3 separate regions of the Homo sapiens genome follow, and regions 1 and 3 are each linked to region 2. Evidence: fine-mapped QTL for protein levels in blood plasma. A gene starts in region 2. Each other region holds a variant in brackets. All regions are shown on one strand. Distances are from middle to middle. Region 1 overlaps ZNF180 (zinc finger protein 180). Region 2 holds the start of CEACAM20 (CEA cell adhesion molecule 20). Region 3 overlaps CEACAM20 (CEA cell adhesion molecule 20).

The links. PIP is the chance, under the fine-mapping model, that this variant and not a neighbour inherited with it causes the effect. Protein levels are from antibody-based Olink assays in UK Biobank. Linkage for the fine-mapping came from a reference panel and not from the study's own genotypes, which makes the PIPs less certain.
Region 1: its variant is fine-mapped to the plasma level of the CEACAM20 protein (UK Biobank, PIP above 0.99).
Region 3: its variant is fine-mapped to the plasma level of the CEACAM20 protein (UK Biobank, PIP above 0.99).

What each region holds. Positions count from the first base shown.
Region 1 is chr19:44,496,014-44,498,774 of GRCh38, reverse strand. ZNF180 (zinc finger protein 180) reads left to right here. Exons shown (of 5, transcript NM_001278509.3): 2 at 1,398-1,491. The coding sequence starts at 1,441. Among named protein-coding and RNA genes, the nearest start is that of ZNF180, 3.1 kb to the left of the region's middle. The variant A/G (reference allele first, on the strand shown) is at 1,208.
Region 2 is chr19:44,527,967-44,530,727 of GRCh38, reverse strand. CEACAM20 (CEA cell adhesion molecule 20) reads left to right here and starts at 1,053. Exons shown (of 12, transcript NM_001102597.3): 1 at 1,053-1,270. The coding sequence starts at 1,219.
Region 3 is chr19:44,517,553-44,520,313 of GRCh38, reverse strand. All of the region lies in intron 5 of CEACAM20 (CEA cell adhesion molecule 20), which reads left to right. Among named protein-coding and RNA genes, the nearest start is that of CEACAM20, 11 kb to the left of the region's middle. The variant A/G (reference allele first, on the strand shown) is at 1,651.

The sequences.
Region 1 (2,761 bases), 32 kb after region 2:
CAGATTGGGGAGGCATGGGCAGTCCTAGGACCCTGATTCTGCCTGAGGATGCCCAGGTGTGTGGGGGGGAGCAGCTGCAGAGGGGCGGGACTGTGTCAGGCACCCCTTGTGCACACACACCGGTGTTTGGTTGGGAAACAGGAGGCCGGAGATGAGTTTTAGACAGAGGGTGCTGGGGTCTTTGTGTGATTGGAACCCTGATCACAGCCTGATGGTGCCCAGTTTGGTGGAAAGACAGGATCTTCCTGAGCCACAGGTGCCCCCGAAAGATGTTTGGTCAGAATCTGGGCAGGTGTGGCTCAAGCAGGGGGCTGTGGAGTAAGGTGGAGGAAACAGTTTGGGTGCAATTTCAGGAAACAGCTGCATTGTGAACCTACGCTATGCTGCGTGAGAATATGGTGGGAGCAGGGGAGAGAGTAAGTGGGAGAGATGGAGTGCAGAGGGTGGGGTGCCTAGGGTAGGATTTGCCCTCTAGTCTTGGATCCCAAAACACCTAGTTGGTACAGAGGCACCTGAGCTTCTGAGACATGTATTTAGAGCCTGGGTAGGGCTGCTTTTGTCTGGCTTGTGCTGGTGTCTGTTGGAGGCCCCCAGCCCTATGCAGGCCTTGTTGTAGTTTCAGGCCTGAGTATACCCAAGTTGGTGGAGGGACTGGTTTAGAGCTACAAATTCAGGGCCTGGGAGGGTGTTAGGGTGGGAATCTGGCTGGTGCTGTTCGAGTAGGAGCCAGTGGACCCCAGAAGTGTGGAGGGAACAGGATGTGGGTATAGCTGAGCTCTGTGCATAAATGCTTGGCTATTTGAGCAGGATGTGGGTGGCCCTCTGTGCTGAGTTGCTGGAGGGACAGGTCTGGCTGATGGAACGGTAGGATCAGTCTTAGTTGTTGAATCAGTTCCTGGGAGCAGTGGAGCTGTGTCACCAGCTTCATGCAGTTAGGCAGTGAGTGTGATTCTGGCCCTAGGAAGAAGTGCTGGTTTGGGGCTGTAGATTGAGGTTGGTAGGGGTAGGATGGGGTGAACACCAGGGGGTCCTCAATATGCCTGATATTTGTGGGGATCCCAGGGCCCAGTGAATAGGAGAGGGATGGACTGGTGCTGCAGACTTTGGTGGTGGGCAGAAGGCCATGTTGGGCACAAGCTGGGCTTACAGGTAGATGGTCCAGGGGCCCAAGATGGTGGAGGAACCAGGTTGGAGCTGCAGAAACTTG[A/G]CCTGGGAGAGGGACTGAGGGACTCTCAGTACATACACAGGTATTTGGGCAGGAAGCTGGCAGGAACCTCCAGAAGTGCATTTGCTATGGGAATGCATCCTGCATCCTGGGAGCAGGGGCTAATGGGGGTGGGGGGCCCAGCGGTTCCGGCAGACCTACATCTTCATGCTGTACTTGGGGCTTCTCTCAGTGCAGCTCAGGACCTCAGCACCCTGCTGTGCCTGGAGGAGAGCATGGAAGAGCAGGATGAGAAGCCCCCAGAGCCCCCGAAGGTCTGTGCACAGGTGAGTGGAGACCCAGAGCTTGGGTCTGTCTGCAGCCTGACCCTCTCAGCTTGGGAGGCTGTGGCTCCTCCCTGACTCTCTTTGCAGCCTTTTAGGGGGTTTGAGGCCCTCATGGCCATCAGGCTTCTAACACTTACTATATATTTTATGAATCTCCCTGCTAGTTGCCTCACCTTTTTAGCCCAGATAACTCTTTCTGGAAGGAATTTGGCATCCTGAATCAAAAGCCCTTAAAATGCTGATTCCCTTTTGGCCAGCAATTCACAGCTTTGAGAATGAACAATTGGAAATATACTAAATGTGCAATGTAAGAGGATAGCTGAATGAATTACGATAAGACCATGAAATAGAATACACTGTAGCCATTGAAACTGATGATAATGCAAATTTAATGACAGAAAAAGTTATTTATTACCTATGTTAAGTAAATTGCACTTAGAAATCATCACTTTTTAAAAAGAGATATAGTTTTTGGGTATATAGAAAATATGTTAGAAGACTATAAATATAGCAATCAGTTAACAAACATTATCTGTAGTTGTTTTATCATTTATTTATCTGTATTTTCTTTTTCTTTTCTTTCTTCTTTTTTTTTTTTTTTTTTTTTTTTTGAGACAGAGTCTTGCTCTGTCGTCCAGGTTGGAGTGCAGTGACACAATCCTAGCTCACTGCCGCCTCAAACTTCTGGGCTCAAGCCATCCTCCTGCCTCAGCCGCCTGAATAGGTGGGACTACAGGTGGGCACCACCAAGCCTGGCTTATATTTTTTGTGTGTGTGTATTTTAAAAATTTTTTGTAGAAACGATATCTCACTATGTTTTCCAGGCTGGTCTCGAACTCCTGGCTTCAAGCCATCCTCCCACCTCAACTTCCCAAAGTGCTAGGATTACAGATATAAGCTACCACACCTGGCTTGTATTTTCATATTTTTGTACAGTACACTTTAAGGTAAAAATATTGACAATTGGCCAAGCACAGTGGTTCACACCTATAATCCCAGTACTTTGGGAGGCCGAGGTGGGAGGATTGCTTGAGGCCAGGAGTACAGGACCAGCCTGGGCAACATAGTGAGACCCTGTCTCTATAAAAAATTTTAAAAATTAGCCAGGATAGTGGTGTCCACCTATAGTCCCAGATACTTGAGTGGGTGAGGTGGGAGGATCGCCTGAGCCCAGGAGGTCTAGGATGTAGTAAGCTATGATTGTGTCACTGCACTGCAGCCTGGACAACAGAGTGAGACTCTGTCTCTAAAAAACAAGTTAACAATTTAG
Region 2 (2,761 bases):
CCTGCCCACTCTGGGTTGTCACTGTCTGGGGACAGTTCTGTCTCCCCCACTGGACTGTGAGCCTCTGTGAGAACAGGGTTGGGGCTGTCTTAGTCAGAGCTGTGTCCCCAGTACCACCAGGAGCAGGGGTCAGCATAGGAGAGAATTCAGGACTGGGCGCGACGGCTCACGTCTGTAATCCCAGCACTTCGGGAGGCTGAGGCGGGCGGATTGCTTGAGCTCATGAGTTGAAGACCAGCCTGGGCTACGTGGTGAAATTCCGTCTCTACTAAAAATACAAAAATTAGCTGGGTGTGGAGGCGCACGCCTGTAGTTGCAGCTACTAGGCAGGCTGAGGCAGGAGAATTACTTGAGCCTGGGAGGTGGAGGTTGCAGGGAGGGGAAATCATGCCACTGCACTCCAGCCTGGGCAACAGAGCAAGACTCCATCTCAAAAAAAAAAAAAAGGAAGAGAATTCAGGAAGTATTTGTTAAATTAATGGATGGATACATGGATTAATGATAGTTCCCTCAGCTGGTCGGTTCTGTTAAATCTTCTGGGTCTAGGTCTATACACTGTCAAAGACCACCAGCTTGTCTTGTCATAGAGATTTTTTTTTAAGTAACTTTTATATATGGAACCTTTACTATGTTCTCGAAGTTTCAGCTCAGATGTCCACTCCTCCAGGAGGCCCTCCCTGCCCCTTCTCCCAAGACCACGTCAGGCTCCTCCTGGAGGTCCCCCAGTCCTGCTCAGTCTGAGATTCCTGCCGGTCTGACTCCAGAGCTTTTGTTTATGACCAGGATCTATATCACAAGCATGATTCCGGCTCATTTAATATTTATTGGCTGCTTATAATGAACTTGGCACTGGGACTGGTTATTAAGCTCTCGGGGACAAGGAGCTGGTCATTGTTGTTTTTTATTATCATTGCTATTGACTATCGTAATCGCAGTTCCCGGTCTCCAGGGTTCCTGGACTTCCCGCTCTTTGTGCTGGGCAGGGAAGGAAAGTGAGCCCTGGGGGTAGAGGGCAGAGGTGGGGTCAAAGTTACTTTCCTGCCACCACCCCTGTCTGTCCTGGGAGCTGCAGTTACTGCAGTGTGTGTGTGAGTTTGTAGCAGGGTGGGAGAGGAGAGAAGGGAGGTGGAGGGGCTGCACCTGGAGTGAGGACTGTATCTGTGTGTGCAAGCCGGGGCGACAGACGGCCTGGCACACTGAAGTCAGGTGCCGGGACCCATGGGGCCTGCTGACTCATGGGGACACCACTGGATGGGAATCCTGCTTTCAGGTGAGTGCCCTGCTTCCTTCAGATGCGGGAGGAGGGAGGTTGTATGCATCTATTTGTCAGCGGTGTGTGTGTGTGTGTGTGTGTGTGTGTGTGTGTGTGTGTGCACTCGAGGAAAAAGAGATGGAGGCAGAGAAAAAAAATAGAGACACAGAGACAGAGACAGAAATAAAGACAGATACAGATATAAAGATAGGGCCAGGCGTGGTGGCTCACATCTGTAATCCCAGCACTTTGGGAGGCCGAGGTGGGTGGATCACTTGAGGCCAGGAGTTTGAGACCAGCCTGGCCAGCATGGCAAACCCCCGTCTCTACTAAAAATACAAAAATTAGCTGGGTGTGGTGGTACACTCCTATAGTCCCAGCTATTTGGGAGGCTGAGGTAGGAGAATCACTTGAACCTTGAACTCGGAGGTGGAAGCTGCAGTGAGCTGAGATGACACCATAGCACTCTAGTTTGAGTGACACAGCAAGACCCTGTCTCAAAAAAAAAAAAAAAAAAAAGAAAGAAAGAGAGAAATACAGAAATAAACATAGATACAAAAGAGATAGAAGGAGACATAAACAGAGACCAGAGACAGAGAGACAAAGATATATGTATATTTGTCAGTGGTGTGTGTGTGTGTGTGTATACTTGAGGAAAGAGTGACAGAGGCAGAGAGAGAAACAGACACAGAGAGACAGAGACAGAAAAAAATACAGATGCAAGAGACTGACAGAAGGAGACATAAACAGAGACCAGAGACAAGAGAGAAAGACAAAGATGTGTGTTTGTGTGTCTGTGTACACAGAGAAAGAGAGAGAGACAGAGAAAGATGGAGTCACAGCCACAGAACCAGAGACCCAGGGAGAAAGAGAGAGAAATACAGGGAGAAGAGATACGCACAGAGACAGAGACAAAGGGTGAAAAAATAACCTTAGAAATGATACCAGTGGGGCCCAGGCACAGTGGCTCACGCCTGTAATCCCAGCACTTTGGGGGGCCAAGGCGGGTGGATCACGCAGTCAGGAGTTCAAGACCAGCCTAGCCAAGATGGTGAAACCGTCTCTACTAAAAATACGAAAATTAGCTGAGTGTGGTGGCGGGCACCTGTAATCCCAGCTACTCGGGAGGCTGAGGCAGATAATTGCTTGAACCTGGGAGGCAGAAGTTGCAGTGAACCGAGATTGTGCCATTACACTCCAGCCTGTGTGACAGAGTAAGACTCTGTCAAAAAAAAGAAAAAGAAGAAAGAAAGAGGGAAAGGGAGAGAGAGAAAGAAAGGAAAGAAAGAAAGGAAAGAAAGAAAGGAAAGAAAGAAAAGAAAGAAAGAAAAGAAAGAAAGAGATACCAGTGGGAAAAACAGGAAGGGGCAGAAAGAGAGGGAGACAGAGGACAAAGAGACAGGGAAAGAACTGGGTAAATACACAGCCAGAAATAGATTCAGAAACGCGGGGAGAGAGTTGGAGTATCACAGAGATTCAGACAAGCAGATGAGAGACAGGTGGAGGGAG
Region 3 (2,761 bases), 10 kb after region 2:
TATGTTCTAGTGGAGAAGCCAGACCATAAACAGAGAAGCAGGTGATAAGGCTTAGGGACACCACCAGATTTAGGCTTTCACAGGGTCTCACTGGCCTTTGTCTACAGGGAGGCAAACATAGAAGTGGGGGAGAGGGGGAGTGAGAGAAGGAGTTGTATTTGTCCAGATCCTTGGAGAAGCAGACCCCAAGGTGGGATTAACGGGATTATTCATGCAAGGGTTTTATTAGGGGAAATGCTCCTGTGAGGATAACTAGGGAGGCAGCTGCAGGGAGGCTGGGAGAGCCATCAGACTGAGAGACTGAGATGCAAGTGTGACCCCGAGTGACAGGGTGAGGGACAGAGACTTGAATGGAAGCACCTGGATAACCATGCACTTGAAGGAACACCCATCATGGCTGTTGGGACCTTCCATATCTCCCAGGAAGGGGCCTGCCTTAGTTTCCTGGATGCACTCAGGTACTGGCAGGGTGCAGCCTGTGGAAGGGCTGGGAGTAGATTTGGGGGCACAGCAATTGGGCCCTTGGTCAATTACATTTCTGCCGTTGGAGGTCTTTGAAGAGCTTCTCCTGGTGGCCAGAGTTGCGCAGCAAGAGATGATAGGGCTGGACCAGAATGGCAACTGTCGGGTGTTGAGAAATGGTTGCACTGTGGATGTATTTTGAATATGCTGCTGACTGATATTAGGTGAAAGAGAAAGAAAGGAGTCAAGAATGACTGTAAGGTTTATTGCCTGAGCCACCGAAAGGATGTAGGAGTCACGAACCAAGATGGAGAAGATTGGGGGAGAAGAGGTTTCTGCAGGGAGAGAAAGGAGGGGTGCACTTTCATACATGCGAAGCAGTAGGGAACACAGAGGTAGGGGTTGAGTACATGTCTTTGCTCCTCTTTACACTTCTCTGTTGCTCACTCCTCTTTCCTTTTCAATTCAGTCATTAAACCAAAAATATATGTTTTGTGCTCTCTCTGTGCTAAGCAACATGTTGGGCATTTGATACTTGACATGATTTTCAGCTTTCACAGCCTGCTGGGGATGGGGAGGTCACTAAGCAGGCAGATAAAACATAGCATGATAAATGGGACCCCGGGGGACAAAGGGAGGGTATGGGGAGCCCAAAGGAAGCCTCCATCTGGGGGATGTTGCAAAGGGTCATCATGAATGGGGATGTCCACCATAAGAGCTGAAGGATGAGTAGGAGTAGGCTGCTTAGAGCAGAGTCAGGGAAGAGCATTCTAGACAGAGGGAAGAGAGTGTGCGATGGCCTTGAGGCAAGAGAGAGTGTAACAAGGATGGAATCTCCGAGTGGGATTTAATTCCTGAATGAGAGCAAGAGGTGTGGAAAGGTGGGGCTGGAGGGGGTCTGTAAGAATCAAATTGTAAATGGCCTCTTCAGACATAGGCTTTGTCCCAAGGGCACTGGGGAGCCACAGAGGGTTCTGAACACAGGAGGGACAGTGACACTTTAGTACTTAGGAAGACTTCTCTGGCTGCTGTGTGGAGGATGAGACTGGGATGGGGAGACCAGGAGGAGCTGGGATGCAGGTGAAGGATCCAAGTGTCAATGGGGTCAGGATGGGGAGAAATGAGCAGGTTCAAATGATGTTTAGGAGGGAGCAGAGTCAGGGTATTCCTCCCCTCCTAGAATGTCTC[A/G]ATTAGCAACCTTTTGCATCCTTTCCAGTATTTTACATTAATTTAAATAAAGTATGACTCTTAAACTCTTTTAGGTTTTTTTTTTTAAATAGAGACAGGGTCTTACTATGTTGCGTAGGCTGGTCTTGAATCCCTGAACTCAAGTGATCTCCCTGCCTCAGCCTCCCAAAGTGCTGGGATTACAGGCATGAGCCTCAGCCCCAGGCCTAAACTCTTTTAATTTATATGAGAAATCCAACAACTACTTTCATTTGTTTCCTTCTTATATGTGGTGGAAGAGAAAAGTGACAATGATCCCCTCTGACATTACAAAGAAAATTTGCACGTGTTTATACCATTGAGAATACACAGTACTAGAAGTTAGGGATTATATACACAGGACGCAGCCACAATTTCCCTCCTTTCCTTCCTTCCTTCCTTCCTTCCTTTCTCTCTCTCTCTCTCTCCTTCCTTCCTTCCTTCTTGCCTGCCTGCCTGCCTGCCTGCCTGCTTTCTTCCTTCCTTCCTTCCTTCCTTCCTTCCTTCCTTCCTTCCTTCCTTCCTTCCTTCCTTCCTTCCTTTCTTTCTTTCTTTCTTTCTTTCCTCTTTCCTTTTGAGTCTCACTCTATCACCTAGGACGGAGTGCAGTGGCACAATCTTGCCTCACTGCAACTTCGGCCTCCCAGGTTCAAGTGATTCTTAGCCACTCGAGTAGCTGCAATTACAGGCATGTGCTACCACATCCAGCTAGTTTTTATTTTTATTTTTCAGTAGAGACGTGATTCGCCACACTGGTCAGGCTGGTTTTGAACTCCTGGTCTCAGGAGTTCCACTCACATCCACCTACCTCGGCTTCCCAGAGTGCTAAGATTACAGGTGTGAGCCACTGCGCTTGGCCTAGCAACAATTTCTGATGCCTGGGTGACCTAAAACACTTCTTTGAATTAACTTTTACAAAGGCAGTTTTTTTTCTTTTTTTTTTTTTTTTGAGATGGAATCTTGCTCTGTCGCCCAGGCTGGAGTGCAGTGGCATGAGCTTGGCTCACTGCAACCTCCACCACCCATGTTCAAGCAATTCTGTAGCCTCAGCCTCCCGAGTAGCTGGGACTACAGGTGCGTGCCACTACGCCCG